Regions from separate parts of the Homo sapiens genome. Here region 2 is linked to region 1. Evidence: fine-mapped expression QTL. Tissue or cell type: testis. Region 1 holds a variant in brackets; the other region holds the start of a gene. All regions are shown on one strand. Distances are between the middles of the regions.

Region 1 (8,106 bases):
GTTCATGCTTACTGAATAATGAGTATATATTAAGTACCTACTACATACAGAATATAATTATTTTTATGAGACAGGGTCTCACTATATTGTCCAGGCTGGTTTCAAACTCCTGAGCTCAAGAGATCCTCTTGGCCAGGTGTGGTGGCTCGCACCTATAATCCCAGTGCTTTGGGAGGCTGAGACAGGAGGATCACTTGAGGCCAGGAGTTTGAGACCAGCCTGGGCAACATAGCAAGACCTCATCTCTACAAAAAATTTTAAAATTAGCCAGGCAAGGTGGTGCATGCCTTTAGTCCCAGCTCAGGTGGGGGATTACTTGAGCCCAGGAGTTCAAGGCTGCAGATTGCACCACTGTACTCCAGCCTAGGCAACAGATGGAGATCCTGCCCCTAAAAACCAAAAAAAAAAAAAAAGATTCTCCCCCCTCAGCCTTCTAAATAGCTGAGATTACAGGCATGCACCACCATGCCTGGCTCAGAATACTATTCTCATAATAATGATGATGCAGGTTTATATTTGCTTAGTTAAAAGAGAGGATGTTTTCATCACAGATTGTAAATAGCAAAGTAATCGGTGGTATTTGAGGTTATTTGCAAAAATCCTTCCAGTCCAGTCGGGCACGGTGGCTCACACTTGTTCCCAGCACTTTGGGAGGCTGAGGCGGGTGGATAACCTGAGGTCAGGAGTTTGAGACCAGCCTGGCCAACGCAGTGAAATCCTGTCTCTACTAAAAATACAAAAATTAGCTGGGTGTGGTGGCACATACCTGTAGTCCCAGCTACTCGGGATGCTGAGGCAGAAGAGTCGCTTGAACCTGGAAGGTGGAGGTTGCAGTGTGCTGAGACCACACCATTGTACTCCAGCCTGGGTGACAGCACAAGACTCCATCTAAAAAAAAAAAAAAAATTACTTCCAGTCCACTCTCGTTTTATTGTCTCTGATGCCCTGCTAAGTTAAAAAGGTCAAAAAAAAATCGTGATCTCCATTTTATGATGAAAAATTGAGCACTAGGAAAATTATTTGTCCAAGGCCACACCATACTGGAATTGGCTTCAGACTCCATGTTCAGTGCTCTTTAACAAGGGGAGTCAGAGGGGGAGAGTGGAGAATGGGCCACAGAAAGAAGTAGTCACCTATGGCTTCTCCTTTGAGCCATCCGGATCAGTGGAGGAGAGAATAAGATGATACTGACAATCTCTTGAGTTGTGACAGTATGCCAGGCACTGTGCTTTATCTCATTTAACTGAGTTGTAGACAACATTGTCCTCTCCATTTAGAGAGGAGGAAATGAGACACACAGTGAAATAACCTGCCCGTGATCACTCACTTAAATGGTAGAGCTGGGATTTGAACCCAGACCTCAGTGATTTCAAGCTTAACCATTAGCTTGTGAAAATGCATCAGGAATCACATCCACATAAAATAGCTGCCAGGGTGCAGCTGAATTGTGGTCAGGCAGGGACTTGGCTCCTCTCCCTCTTGTTTAACTTGGGGATTTCCTTGTTCAGCTCAGGGGCAATGTCCTTAACTGTGGAAGTTCCTTGGCTGTGGCTCGGGTACCCTCTGCTGGTCAATCTGTGACACATCAACCAGCCCTCCAGTTTGACTTTATAGCCTTTTATGCATTTAACATAAATGTTACCAGGCACTGTGCTGAGCAACGGAGGCAAGAAGACATAGTCCTTGCCCTTAGGGAGCTCCTAGTTCAAAGGGGAAGACAGCCCACTAACCAGGCAACTCAACACTGTAATTAGAGCCATTCTTGGGAAAATCGCGAGAAACTCCAGTGCACACAGAAGGGGCGCCTCAGCCAACTCTGAGGAAGTCAGAGAAAGCTTCCCAGAGGTGACATCTAGAGACATCTAGGTGTATTAGGGACCCTGCTTATCTAGCGTAACTCAACTCCTGTGCTCCCCAAAGCCCTGCACTTACTGACTAGGAAAAAAAGGGACAAATACTGGCCTCTCTCCTCACCCCCCATTAAGCATCCAAGACCACAGGTTTGACCCCAGGGGCTGTTTCAATGCCATGGGAGAATCCAGCAGCTGGTGGATTCTTCCCCAGGGTCCGGCTGAGGAAAAAGAGAGGAAGAAATGAGTCAGGTGGGAGAACATCTCCAGGTGCCAGCACAGCAGAGAAGAAATTAGGCTAGAACCTGGCTCCCCTGTGCGACCCCAGGCAAGTCACTCAACCTCTCTGACCTTTTTCCAAGTATGCACAGAACAGATAGTGCTAGTACCACCTGAGAGGATTAAATGAGGTAGGGCATAGAAAGGATTTAGTCCAGGCCAAATGCAGGGTGTGTGTTCCTTAACTGCTGATAGCTATCATTACTACCCTTCAAACCAGTGGGCCCCAAGCCATCTGGCAGCAGGGGAAACACAGCTTAGACCCTGGAGAGCAATCAGTTCTGCATAATCGAATTCCTCTCTTAGGGAAGCTTAGTTAATAAGCGAGGGCATGAAGGCTGCGACTGGGGCCCTCCTGGTCACAGTTGGTCTGGGGTTGGGGGCAGGAAGCCAAGGTCGTTTCCTGCAGATGTTTCTGGCAGGCGTTCACCTTCTCCTAGCGGATGCCTAAGAATGTATCAAGGGCCTCCTGAGTCCCAGCACCGTGCTAGGCCGGGAAGATGAGTGTAGGGGTGAGACCTTTGCTTCTTAGGGACCAAGGAGTTAAATAGGGTGCGAATTCAGCGGGGCTGGAGGGGGCGACGCAAAGGCGGCACCCTCCAATAAAAATGAACATGTAAGGAAGAAAGGAAGACCTCTCTAATGAGGGCATCGCAGGAGCAAGACGCTGCACTCGGGTCCTTTTAAATCACTATGTAATGGAGGGGAAATCCCTGCCCTCTCTTTTCCCTTTCCGTAAACAACGAAGTAGAGGATGTCCTCCTCCCACGAGGCCCGCCCTCGGATGCCCCGCCTGTCCCCGCAGGTGCGCAGCGTGGCCGTGACGCACACCTTCCAGATAGCCAAGGCCCGCGCCCAGCTCGGCTACGCGCCGGATAAGTTTAGGTTCGCCGACGCCGTGGAGCTATACGTGCAGTCCACGACCCGGCGGCCCCGCGGCTCCACGGCGCGGACCCTCCTGCGCCTGCTGCTCAGGCTGCTGCTGTTCCTCGGCTTGCTCGCCCTGGCCCTGCACTTCCTAGGCCTGCA[G/A]CCTCTGCACGCCGCCGTGGAGCGCCTGTGACCGTCCGCCGTCCGCCGCCCGCTAGGGTCGGCCCCGCTGCACCCTCGCCCACGCCCGGCTCCCTGGGCTTGTACCAGCCCCTGCCCCGCCTTCTGGGTTTGAGCGCGCCTCCGCTCCGCCCCTTGAATCCTGGTCACGCCCCCGAGCCGCTCTCCAGACCTAGCCCGGACCGCCGACTTCTGGCCACGCCCCTATCTACTCCCAGACCTTGCCTTGCGCCCTTCCTGTGTTTTGGCCCCGCCCCTGTCCTGTCCCGCCCCGCCCTCCGAAGTGGGCACGCTCCTGCTCCGCCCCCTGAATCCTGGCCACGTCCCTGGTCGGCCCAGACGCGTAGCCCCGAGTCTCTTTCCATGTTTTGACCACGCCCTTGACCCGCCCTTCAAATTGGGCACGCCTTCTTCCCCGCTCACTGATTTCCTGGCCTAGCCCCTGAGCAGACCTCCAGACCTAGCCCCGCCCCCGTTTTATAACCCCGCCCCTGCTTCACGGCTTGGGCACGCCTCTTCCCCGCCCCCTGACTTCAGAGCCTAGTCCTGAGCCGCTCTCCAGGCCTAACCCCGCCTTCATGTCATAGCCACGCCCCTTCCCGCCCTTCCATGTTTGGGCACGCCTTCTGAGTCCTGGTCACGCCTCTGTCCCGCCCCCTGAATCTTTCCTACGTCCATGACCCTCCCTCCAGGCCCTGGCCCTGCCCCTTTTTTCCTCCCTCCGGCCTGTCCGGTTTCTGATATGGGCCAAGGCTCACAGCTTCCTCCGCCTTCTGGACCTTCTCCTAGTCCCTGCCCAGTCCCGGCCCACCCCCAGATTCTCCCTCATTCTGGTTTCGCCCCCTTTCTGGTCCTCCCCGCGCGCTTGAGCCCACCCTTTGGCTTCTCCTTTTGGGTCTGTCCTTGCTCCTGCCTCTGGACCCGGTCCCGCCCTTCTCGCGTGTAATTGAGTCCTGGCCCCGCCCCCTCCCTCTCTGGCTTCACCCCTTTCCAGCTCCGCCTCCCGGGTAGGTTCTCCCCGGAACCAGGCTGCCGCGTCGCTATGGGCTAACGCAGGCTCGGGTGACGTTGGTATGAGTTTGCGCCGTCGGCTGCTGCTCTGTCTGGTAACATTGCATTCGATCCACCCCGACCCAATGTTCTGGGCTTCTCATTCACACAGATCTGTGTGTTGACAGCCAGGGTTTGGGGAAAAACCGAGACTCAAGCTTCTGCCGAGCCCGACTTGGCCTTTTTGGGTTCCTGTCTGAGGATGACAGCATAGTAAGCACAGGTTTTAGTACCAGAAAGAGCATGAAAAATTTAAAAAAAAAAACTCTTAAAATAATTGGATGTCTCGATGAAGTACCAATAAAGCTATAATGGGAAAAATAGAGTTTAGTTGGTTATATTTTATGATTTAGTACTGTTTCTATTTATTAATTAGAGGTAGTGGTAATCACCATAATCTTTAAAGTTTAAGGTCACGAAACTTCTTTATCTAGCCCTGCTCTCCACAGAAACTTCGCCTCCTATCATCTTGGTATCAGTTATCAGTTGTAAGTACCAAGACATCAGTGTGTAAATACAACCATGTATAGATCATAATATGCACACGTGGGACTGGCAGAGAAGAAAAGCACCACAAGCCTGAGGTGGATGGGATCGAAAGGGCTCATCAGAACCAACATGGCCACCGCAGTGTGTGTCCCACTCTGCTGAACAAGGTGAGCAGTTTGGGAAGGAGCTAAAAAAAAATGTATGCTCCTCTCTGCTAGGCTGAATTTTATGTGTGTATATAATTTTTGAAAGAATAATAATCCTATGTCTGTTTAATGCTTGACAGTGTAAAAGAGCTTTCATCTATGTGATCTTATTTAATTCTTACAGCTACTCTTAAATAGGGTTTATTACTCTCCTTTTATAGATGACGAAAACTGGGGCTTTGTCTCATTCCAAAGAGCAGAGGAGGGTGGGGGTTTCTGCTCTACAGCTGGGGGAATTTGGAGGAGCACCGCCTAAGCCGCCACTGGCCTAAACACAACACGTGGTAACTTCTACTCTTCTACACTCTGGCCATGCCAAGGCTTGCGGTTGAACTCTGGTCTCGTTCTCTCAGAGCCGCAAACCTCGGACCATTTGAAGCTGGCGGTCCTGGGGCTTCCTTTCCTCTCGATAACATGTTTACATCCAAACTCACTTCCTTCCTCTCTTTCTTCTCCCTGCTAATCCTGGGAAATCTGTTCTTCGAGCAGGAAAAACAATCTCACACTGCTCACGTTATTTTCTAGATCTTTTGACTAGTGCCAAACCTACTTTTGAAAATCCAAAAGCCAAGAATCAATTTATTTGTTTTCTGGATTTCTCCAACTCATCTATTTCCTAACACTCTGGAAGCAGAATGTGTAAACCCTGGGCATGGGGACAACATGGATCGCTATGTCAAAAAAGCTTTTTTCCTTTCAAGCATCTTTATCCAATGGAAAAGGAGGTGGCATCCCCACCCAACAGGAAAACTGAATCACTGTAAGAATTTTTGAGACTGCCCAGACCACTAGCCTCCATGAGGTTCTGAAAGGGCAAGTAGGAGGTTCTAGCTTACTTGGAGACGCTAAAGAGAAGCATCGCAAATGCAGAAAACAGAATTGTCACAGTGGGCAGCCCAAGGTGACATAGTCGATCTGAAGGGATTATCAAGACAAACTCATAGGCTTTCCATTATGGGTGCTGAAGCTATTCCCAGTTGTAAACCCAATGCCAGGCATCTAAAACATCCTCAAGTCTCTCTCATCTTGAAAATATCTTCCCAGCAGGGCACAGTGGCTCACACCTGTAATCCCAACATTTTGGGAGGCTAAGGCTGGAGGATTGCTTGAGGTCGGGAGTTCAAAACCACCCTGGGCGATTTGGTGAGAACCCTGCTTCTACATAAAAAAAAATTTTTTTTAATTAGCCAGGTGTGGTGGCACCCAGGAGGCTGAGGCAAGAGAATCACTTGAGTCCAGGAGTTTGAGTCTGCAGTAAGCTATGATTGCACCACTACACTCCAGCCTGGGCAACAGGGTGAGACCCCATCTTTAAAATTTAAAAAAATCCTCCTTTGATTCCCCCATTTTCCCTCCCACAACTGTTCCTTTTGCTCCTCCTTTTCAAAATCAAATTTTGTGATGAATTGACCATACTTATGTTTCCATTTCTTCTCCTCAACCCATTCCAAAATGGCTTTCAGATCATCAATGATCTTGTCCATAAATCTTAATAGATATTTTTCCGTCTTTATTTTGCCAATTATCTTAGCTGTGTTCAGCATAGTTGACTGCCCCCTCCTTCTTGATCCGCATTTCTTGGTCTCTATGAAACCACACCTGTTTTCCACGTATATTGCTGGCCAGTCCTTTCCCGTCTCTTTCGCATCTCTTTCACTGGCTTTTCTTCCACTGCCCTCCCTTTAAGATGATGTCTCTCGGGTCTCTGTCTTGGCCCCTCTTCTCCCTCTGTGGGATCTTTCTGGATGAGTTCATCCCTTCCCATGGCCTCAGTCTCTAATACCTCCCAAATCTGTATCATTTCCTTGGAGTGCTCTCTTGACCTCCAGAAATCTATGTCCAACCTCCTACTCAACCCCATATCCCACAAGAATCTCCAGCTCAATGAAAATCAAACTGAAGTCATCATCTCCCACAAACCTGCTTTCCATCTATCTTGTGTTCCCTCCCAGGAGAGGAGAGGCACCACCAGCCATCCAATGACCCAAGCCCAAATCCTGGGCGTCACTTTTGACGTGATCCTCTTCTTCTCGACATGCTCATCTGTGGATTCTGTCAAATCTATCTCTAAAATGTCTCCCTGACTCACTCCTTCTGTCCCGCACCCGGCCACTATTGTGGTACAAACCACTGTCCTTTCTCCTAGACAATTGCAATAGGCATTGAATGGGACCTCCTGTCCCTGCTGCCAGCGGGAACTTTCTTTTCTTTCTTTGTTTCTTTGTTTCTTTCTCTTTTTTTTGACACGGAGTTTCACTCAATCGCCCAGACTGGAGTGCAGTGGTGCGATCTCGGCTCACTGCAACCTCCGCCTCCCAGGTTCAAGCAATTCTCCTGTCTCAGCCTCCCAAATAGCTGGGATTACAGGTGCGTACCACCATGCCCAGCTAAATTTTGTATTTTTGGTAGAGACGGGGTTTCACCGTGTTGGCCAGGCTGGTCTCAAACTCCTAACCTCAGGTGACCCACCCGCCTCAGCCTCCCAAAGTGCTGGAATTACAGGTGTGAGCCACCGTGCCCAACCAGTGAACTTTCTAAATTCCAAATTGGAACATGCCACTCTCTAGCTCAAAAGCCTTCCATGGTTTCCCATTGCCCTTGGGAAGGGACCAAGTTCAAAGCCTTAACTCGGCATTCATGGCCCTCTTTGCCTGTCTCTTCGCCTCACCTATTGCCAATACTCCACCTCCACTCTCTGTGCAGCTGCCCTGAATTACCTTCACAGCGTCTCAGCCTTACCAGGCTCTTTAGGAGTTCCCTCTTGGAAATCCCCTCCCACGCCTTCACTTGGCTAATCTCAATTTCAGGCCCCAGCTAAATGTCACTTCCTTGCTTCTCAGGGGCCAGGTTAGCATGCTGTACTGCCTAACACTCCTCACAGGTGTAATTAATTAAAATGACAATGTCTGCAAAGTCGATGGGTTCAAAAACATGCCTGCCTTGTACACCACCACAGCCTCAGGACGAGCACGGTTTCTGGCACATAGTAGGCCCTTCATAAACAGCTCAACAACTGTTTATAAATGAAGGCCCCTAAATCAAGCCTGAAAACCAAGTAAGAGGTGAATCAATGAAGCAGAGACCTCAAGGTTGGCACCCCCACATAGGGCCAGACCCCTACTACTCCAGGGTCACCTGACAACAGAGGTTTATGGGGTCCCTGGAGCCCTCTAAAGTACACGGAG
Region 2 (8,088 bases), 240 kb before region 1:
AAAATTAGCCAGGCATCATGGCACATGCCTGTAATCTCAGCTACTCAGGAGGCTGAGGTGGGAAAATCTGCTTGAAACCAGGAGGTGGAGGTTGTAGTGAGCTCAGATCATGCCATTCCACTCCAGCCTGGGCAACAAGAGTGAAACTCTCCAAAAAAAAAAAAAAAAAAAAAAAAAAGAGGGAGGAGGGAGGGAGGAAGGGAGGGAGAGAGAGAAACAGAGAAAGAGAGACAGAGAGAGAGAGAGAAAGGAAAGGAAGAAAAGGAAAGGAAGGAAGGAAGACAGCTATCAATTTACATTGCCAGGGTGAAATTCAACAAAACTGTTTTAGGGTAAAGATCCTCAGATCCACATGGAATTGCCCTGTGGGCAAATTGTAAGGTAAGTTATGTAGCTTTTTATCCTTATAGCTATCTTATTTAGGAATAAAACGGGAGGCAGGTTTGTCTGACATCATTCCCAGCTTGAATTTTCCCTTTGGCTTAGTGATTTGGAGGCCCTGAGATTTTTTTTCCTTTCACACTTCCTAACTCATTTTATCTATGACAGAAAAATGCATGAATGGGGGGAATGAAAGTGAAAGTTAAAGCCAGTATCACTCTGGAACATAAATGCACAAATCCTAAACAAATAAGTAGCAAATTAGGTCTAGCAATATATTAAAAGAATAAAACATCCAGACCAAGTTGGGTTTATAACAGGAATGAAAGGTTTATTTATAATTTGAATCAATCAATATAACTTAACACAGAATAAGACCAATCTGTTCACCTCAATACATGGAAAAAGTATATGTGACCAAAAACAATAATTATAGAATATTAGAAATTGATATGAACTTTTTTTTCCCCCCCGAGACAGAGTCTCGCTGTGTCGCCTAGGCTGGAGTACAATGGCAGTGATCTCGGCTCACTGCAACTTCCGCCTCCCAGGTTCAAGCAATTCTCCCTGCCTCAGCCTCCCGAGTATCTAAGATTTCAGTCAACTGCCACCATGCCCGGCTAATTTTTGTATTTTTTTTTCAGTAGAGACAGGGTTTTGCCACGTTGGCCAGGCTGGTCTTGAACTCCTGACCTCAGGTGATCCACCCACCTTGGCCTCCCATAGTGCTGGGATTACAGGCATGAGCCACTGTGCCTGGCCCAGGGAATATTTCATCAGAGATAATACCTGACAGGGTAGGATTCTGAAAGGAATGGGGAAGGAAATGCCAACATCGAAATTATGCATTGGGGAAGCCATGATTAATGCCTCTGGCCCTAAGATGGCAAGGTAATGTTGTTCCCAAGTATAAACCCACATCACCTTCCTCTGGTGTGTTTTACTCCTACTGTTGCCTGCTTTCTCTTTACATTCTCCCACCCCATACTCACCGCGAGCGCTCAGGCTAGGTAGTTAGGCTCCATAGAGTCAAATTGGACCCCACATTAACGAAACTAACAATTCGAGCTTTCCAGCAATGAACTCATCTGCTCTTCCATGTCTACTCTTTTCCTGTCTGCTGGTTTCCTCTCCCAGGGCTTTCAGTGTGTTCTACGCAGAAACCAGTTCAAGGACTGGGTTTTCTTCTGCAATAAAATGCTGGAGTTGTGGCAGAGACCTCCACAGTGAGAACAGCCACGGAGTTGGCTAGGAGGTGACATGATGTGGAAGTGGTGGATGTGTCCACAAGATGGCACTCCTAATTTGTAGCTTAATGCTTAATAGGACATTTTGCAATTGACAAACTTGGGATTTTATGATTTATGTAGCTGATATCATGAATTATGTTTCAAATCCTGCCACATTTTGAACAGAATTTATTTTTGCCCCTTTCTGATATTGGGTCATAACCTAAGAATGAGAGGACATTATAAGCAGGTGTGGGTGTGTGTGTGTGTGTGTGTGTGTGTGCACTTGAGTGTGGAGACTTTTGTGTTCCTCCTACCTGACCTGAACTGTTGAATGATGAAGTTACAATGATTGGACTCAGGGGTGCAGCTAGCTAACTTGGGAATTGGGGTTTTGAAGTACTGGAGACAGCTTTGTATGCCATGTTAATGAATTTGAATTTTATCCTGAAAAACGTGGCTGTCGTTGAAGAATTTTAAGCAGGCAGGTGGCTTGATCAGAGCACTGCTTCCCAGATTTCACTCAATGGTACCTGTATAACACATTCATGATTTTTGCTGTATCTCCGTATCATCAAGTTACTTAACGTTTTTACACCAACTTTTATTATTTTATAAATGTACTTAAAGAGGAAATTCACTACTAGCATTGCTTGCCATAATCAAAATAAATATATTATTAAAATGGAACAGTGCTAAATAAGGTGTACACATGGACATAGAGTGTGGAATGACAGACAATGGAGACTCCGAAAGGTGGAGGGGTGGGAGAGAGGTGAACGATGAGAAAGTACTTAATGGGTACCATGTACATTATTCGGGTGATGGGTACACTAAAAGCCCAGACTTCACCATTACTGCAATATATCCATATAACATAACTGTACTTGCGCCCCTTAAATTTATACAAATTTTTAAAAGGAAAAAATGGAAGTGTTCATCTATGTACCAACTTAAAATCATCTCACGCACCACTAGTGTTAAATCTACCACATGTGGGGAAACTGTGTGGTATGAATTGGGTTGAGGGCGTCCCCAGCAGGCACAGAAATTGGGTTGGTGCCAGGTTCTTAATGCCCAGATCTTAATTAGAGAGCCCAAGTCCGTTGTAGGCCTGGAGCAATTCAGACACAAGGCAAAAAGAAAGTACATTTGCCTATGCCTTGTAACGTCTACACCACCAGCCTTTCTGAAACTATTGTGCATACGAAGTCATCCCAGGATCTTGTAAAAACACCGATTCGGATCCAATATGGGACCTGGAGTTCATACATTTCTAATCAACTCCTAAATGATATTGATGCTGATACTGTCGGTTTCCCAACCAAGCAACGTAGCAAGGTACGAAACTCTAAAGTCCCTAAAGGGCAGGGACCACGCCTCTCGCGTTGGCATAGTGCCTAGCTCAAGGCACTTTCTGGGTTAACACTCGCTGAGGACCGGAGTGAACGCCCCCGCCCCAAGTCGTCACGTGACTGACTTTCTCCAACTGCCGGTTTCGGCTCACATAACACACCTACTATCCAAAACATTTCTATTTTCCTAACACAAAAACTATAGCTAAGTTTTTATATTCTATGTAGCCCCAGCCTAGGACGTAAATTCCACGAGACCAAAAGCCTTGTGATGATTCCCCGAGGTTGCTGACCCTCCCGGTGTGTCCCGGGCCTGCTCTGGGGGACACAGCGGCGAATACGTTGAACGAGGCCCCTGTTTCACGGAGCTAAAGATCCAGTAAGGACTTCACCCAGCGAGAGGCAACTACGCCGGGCTTCGATACCCAATACCTCTGCAGAAAGGTGGAGTGGCAGGAATCTCCTGAAGCCTCCAACGTCCAGGAACGCGGAAACCCAGGGCCTCCAGTGCAGGTGTCATCCCGGAGGGCGCATGCGGAGTCCCAAGAGAGGCGCGTCCCATTGGACAATGCTGAGCGGAAGAGCCCAAGATAGCGGGGGGAGTTGTGACAGGCTGCTGCAGACGTACTTAGAAAAGGGGTGCATACTGGATATTCAGGCTAGGAGAAGAACGCAAAAAGCAGTGACGTACATTATTCTCTGCATATATTTACTTGGGAAATTGTGCGTCTCCCTATTCTGAGTCTTGGAGGAATTGGACTGGTCCAACCTTATAAAGAGAGCAGTAGAGCGCGGCAGTATAGAGAGTACCTCACGAAGGGGACGTGGGAAAGTGTTAGCGGGGAACGCTGGGAAACTCCCGGCCTCCGCCACCATCTTGCTTTCCTTTAATCCGGCAGTGACCGTGTGTCAGAACAATCTTGAATCATGAAGCTACTAACCAGAGCCGGCTCTTTCTCGGTGAGCTCAGGTGGCGGGTTTGGGAAAGGGCTGGGGAGCAGTGTGTCGACAAGGTGATACGAGGCGGAGGTGTCTGGTCTGGGGTCTGGGCCTTGGGATTCGGTCTGCCCTTCAGCTGAACCCTGCGGGCCAAGTGGGCTGCAGACTGGGTCAGGCTTTGGAGGCCCAGCTCATGCTGTGAGCACAAGAGACCTAACACCGGGAAACCTGAAGAGAGGGGCAGGACGTGAGAGCGGAGTTGAAGCGAGTCCTTGGAGAGACTTCTGAAGGTCACTCCGGTACTCAAGTGCTGGAGAAAGAGACCGTGAAACCCAGGGGGAGCGGGAGGACGGCGCACTTAGCCCCCCACCTTCACTTTATCCGCTGCAGCCTCTGCTCCTTGGTTTATCACGGAGCGTCAGTTTCCCCAGCGAATAAAAGTATAAGAAAGGAGCTAATGCAGATAGAACACTTATTACAGTACCTGGAACTTCATTGTTAAATACTATGGTGTCTTAGTAGTCTAACGTTGCTTTTCTTGATCGTATGTTAGACGGTTCCTCCAAGACGTCTCTGTTTGTCCTCAAAAGCTCCTTAATTAAGTTTCCCCTTCAAGCCTAAATTAAACATAGCTGTCACTTGGGGAAAACTCACACATCAGGGTTATATCACTGTGGGACAGTGGTTATTAAGAGGGGTAAGGGGGAACACTTAAAAAATCATAGCGAGGGACAGAATGCCCCCAGGGAACCGGTGGCGATGTTTGGAGACATATTTAGTTGCAACAACTTGTAAGGAGGGTGCTATTGGCATGGAGAGGCCAGGGATGCTGCTAAACTTCGCCTTACAGCAAAGAATTATCTAGCCCCAAGTGCCAGTAGTAGTACCTGTGTTGAGAAACCCCCCTAGATGGAGATGCAGAAGACCAGACCTGGGCATGGAATGTTCTTATGCTTTATGTTTACATAAATGTGCTGTGGGCTATATCGATTTAGGCTGTAATTGCATTAACCTTCCAGGTATACCTAGACACACCAGTGATTACCCTTGGAGGGAAGCACGGTTAGATTGGCAAAAGACCCCAACATTTCCTTCTCCATTCTATTTTGCAACAGAAAAAGCTCAGAGAAAACAGTTGGAGAGGCCCAAAGTAAACAAATTGCAGTAAACTTGAAAGCAATTATTTATGTGTCTAATTTTAGCACTTTATATAGGAGAATAAACTTAGATATATCTTGTTATTAGAACAAAATAATTTAGAAGATTGCATGACAGTTACTAGGATAATTTGCTGATTTGAATGGGACGATTAAGAAGCACATTACCGGCGGAGCGCGATGGCTCACACCTGTAATCCTAGCACTTTGGGAGTCAGAGGCAGGCGGATCACTTGAGATGAGGAGTTCGAAACCAGTCTGGCCATCATGGTGAAACCCCGTCTCTACTAAAAATACAAAAAAAAAAAAAATAGCCGGGCGTGGTGGTGGTGGGCGCCTCTAATCCCAGCTACTCAGGAGGCTGAGGCAGGAGAATCTCTTGAACCCAGGAGGCGGAGGTTGCAGTGAGCCGAGATCGCACCGCTGCACTCCAGCCTAGACGACAGAGCGAGACTCCGTCTCAAAAAAAAAAAAAAAAAAAAATTACCAACAAAGAGTTACTATTTGGGCACATTTGGTTGGAAAACACCTAAAATCTCACTTGGTAACGGAATTATAGATTATTCATATTTGAATTGCTATGCCCATATATCTTAAAAGTTTACTTTTTGGAAAATTATAGGCCAAAATTACAAAGAAGGTTAACTATACCATACCCAGCAAACTAAATTGATGACGATAAAGTAAAGCTAATTGTAATTCATAACTGAAAAGCAGTACTAAAAGCAAGTGATAACCAGCAGCCAACCTAGTACAGCACTAATGATGTACAACAAACAGCCTTCTGGACAGCACAGAGTGGAGGCATTGCAGACTGTGCAGGGATGTCCGGGAAACTCCAGTGAGGAGGTGTTCATTGGGTCTTGGGAGCACCAAATTTTATTCACTCATCATCTCCTCTAATAACCTCATGAACTTTAGTCATAATCAGAATGATTTGTATGGCATTGTATAACATTTGCCAAAACAAACTGAATAAAATGAATGCATTTTGGGTCCATTATCTAATATTTAATGGGACCCTTTCACCCTACCAGTAACTGCATTTTATATATTGAGAATCTGATGTGGATGAAGCCATTATTAATCTCAGGATGACATACATGTCATAAATGTTTTATTTAGTCAAAAAAACTAAGACCTTTGGTTGTGTGGTCTTAATACAGCACACAAGAGTGAAGATACAATGGAAAATATTGAGGGCTTGGAGGAAGTTGGTATATACTTTGTCTTTTTCTTTTTTTTTTCTTGAGACGGAGTTTTGCTCTTGTTGCCCAGGCTAGACTGCAATGGCACAATCTCGGCTCACTGCAACCTCCGCCTCCCGGATTCAAGTGATTCTCCTGCCTCAGCCTCCCCAGTAGCTGGGATTACAGGCATGCATCACCACGCCCCGCTTATTTTGTGTTTTTATTAGAGATGGGGTTTCTCCATGTTTGTCAGGCTAGTCTCGAGCTCCTGACCTCAGGTGATCCGCCCACCTTGGCCTCCCAAAGTGCTGGGATTACAGGCGTGAGCCACCGCACCCGGCTAGTTTGTCTTTTTTAAAGGTTACTAAGATGATTAAGGAGATGAAACCATTTCAATTGGAAATTAGACTGAACGGATGACATTCATTGGGCAGATAAAAGAAGCAAGAAGCTGAAACCTATAAAAGGTTGTGGACACAGGCCAGGTGTGGTGGCTCCCACCTGTAATTCTAGCACTTTGTGAGGCCGAGGCGGGTGGATTGCCTGAGCTCAGGAGTTTGAGACCAGCCTGAGCTATGGGGTGAAACGCCATCTCTACTAAAATACAAAAAATTAGCCAGGCGTGGCAGCATGTACCTGTAATCCCAGCTACTTGGGAGGCTGAGACAGGAGAATCGCTTGAATCCAGGAGGCAGACATTGCAATGACCCGAGATCGCACTGTTGCACTCCAGCGTGGGACACAGAGCACGACTCCAACTCAACAAAAAAGGTTGTGGATGGGGTGATCTGACACTTTTTCAAAAAATGCCAAAGCTTTAGAACTACACAGAACCATGAAACTTTTATAAGGTAACTGAAAGATAAGAAAATACAGTGATTCTTTACATCATTTAAAAAATAAGCATCAAGAACTCTATAAATCACTAATAAATAGAGGTTTAAGAATGGCTTGGGTAAACTGGTGGGTTAGTAAGTCCATAATAAGTTATGCAGCTAGGCGGGGTGCAGTGGCTCACGCCTGTAATTCCAACACTTTGGGAGACCAAGGTGGGCAGATCACTTAAGATCAGGAGTTCAAGACCAGCTTGGCCAACACAGTGAAACCCCATCTCTACTAAAAAATACAAAACAAAAACTAGCTGGACATGGTGGCACGCACCTGTAATTCCAGCTATTTGGGAGGCTAAGGCAGGAGAATGGCTTGAACCCAGGAGGTAGAGGTTGCAGTGAGCTGAGATTGCGCCACTGCACTCCAGCCTGAGCGACAGAGAGACACTCTGTCTCAAAAAAAAAAAAAAAATGTTATGCAGGTAAATCCTCCCATGGAGGTGGTTATTGCTCCTTCCACCCCCGAACACCCTCTGTCGCTTGGGTACCCTAAGATACCATGCTTTTATATAAAGCACTGTTCTTGTGAGAAATACGTGTAACCTGTGTTTTTTATGTTTAGAGATTTTATTCCCTCAAAGTTGCCCCCAAAGTTAAAGCCACAGCTGCGCCTGCAGGAGCACCGCCACAACCTCAGGACCTTGAGGTTAGTCCCACTAACTTGCTCGCTGGAAGCTATACATGCCTTACTCTCCTTGGTAATACGAAGACATTCATTATATCTCTACTTTATTTTAAATACAGTTTACCAAGTTACCAAATGGCTTGGTGATTGCTTCTTTGGAAAACTATTCTCCTGTATCAAGAATTGGTTTGTTCATTAAAGCAGGCAGTAGATATGAGGACTTCAGCAATTTAGGAACCACCCATTTGCTGCGTCTTACATCCAGTCTGGTGAGTATCTTCACTTCCTCAAGTGTTTGGAAATGCTGTGGTATCTTGGTCCT

The links. PIP is the estimated chance that this variant, and not a neighbour inherited with it, causes the effect.
Region 2: UQCRC2 starts here. The variant in region 1 is fine-mapped to the expression of UQCRC2 in testis (GTEx, PIP above 0.99). The same link has a PIP of 0.9 or more in nucleus accumbens.

The regions. Positions count from the first base shown.
Region 1 is chr16:22,187,205-22,195,310 of GRCh38, forward strand. It overlaps SDR42E2 (short chain dehydrogenase/reductase family 42E, member 2), which reads left to right. Exons shown (of 13, transcript NM_001394319.2): 13 at 2,935-4,547. The coding sequence ends at 3,189. It overlaps LOC124903666 (a long non-coding RNA gene), which reads right to left and starts at 808. Exons shown (of 2, transcript XR_007065028.1): 1 at 767-808. RefSeq lists silencers at 2,933-3,022, 3,113-3,162, 3,303-3,402 and enhancers at 3,108-3,607, 3,863-3,942, 4,443-4,502, 8,094-8,106. The variant G/A (reference allele first, on the strand shown) is at 3,159.
Region 2 is chr16:21,949,532-21,957,619 of GRCh38, forward strand. UQCRC2 (ubiquinol-cytochrome c reductase core protein 2) reads left to right here and starts at 3,830. Exons shown (of 14, transcript NM_003366.4): 1 at 3,830-3,925; 2 at 7,704-7,787; 3 at 7,886-8,035. The coding sequence starts at 3,893. It also overlaps a transcript of PDZD9 not described here. RefSeq lists enhancers at 3,163-3,622, 3,711-4,428, 3,943-4,112, 4,123-4,172.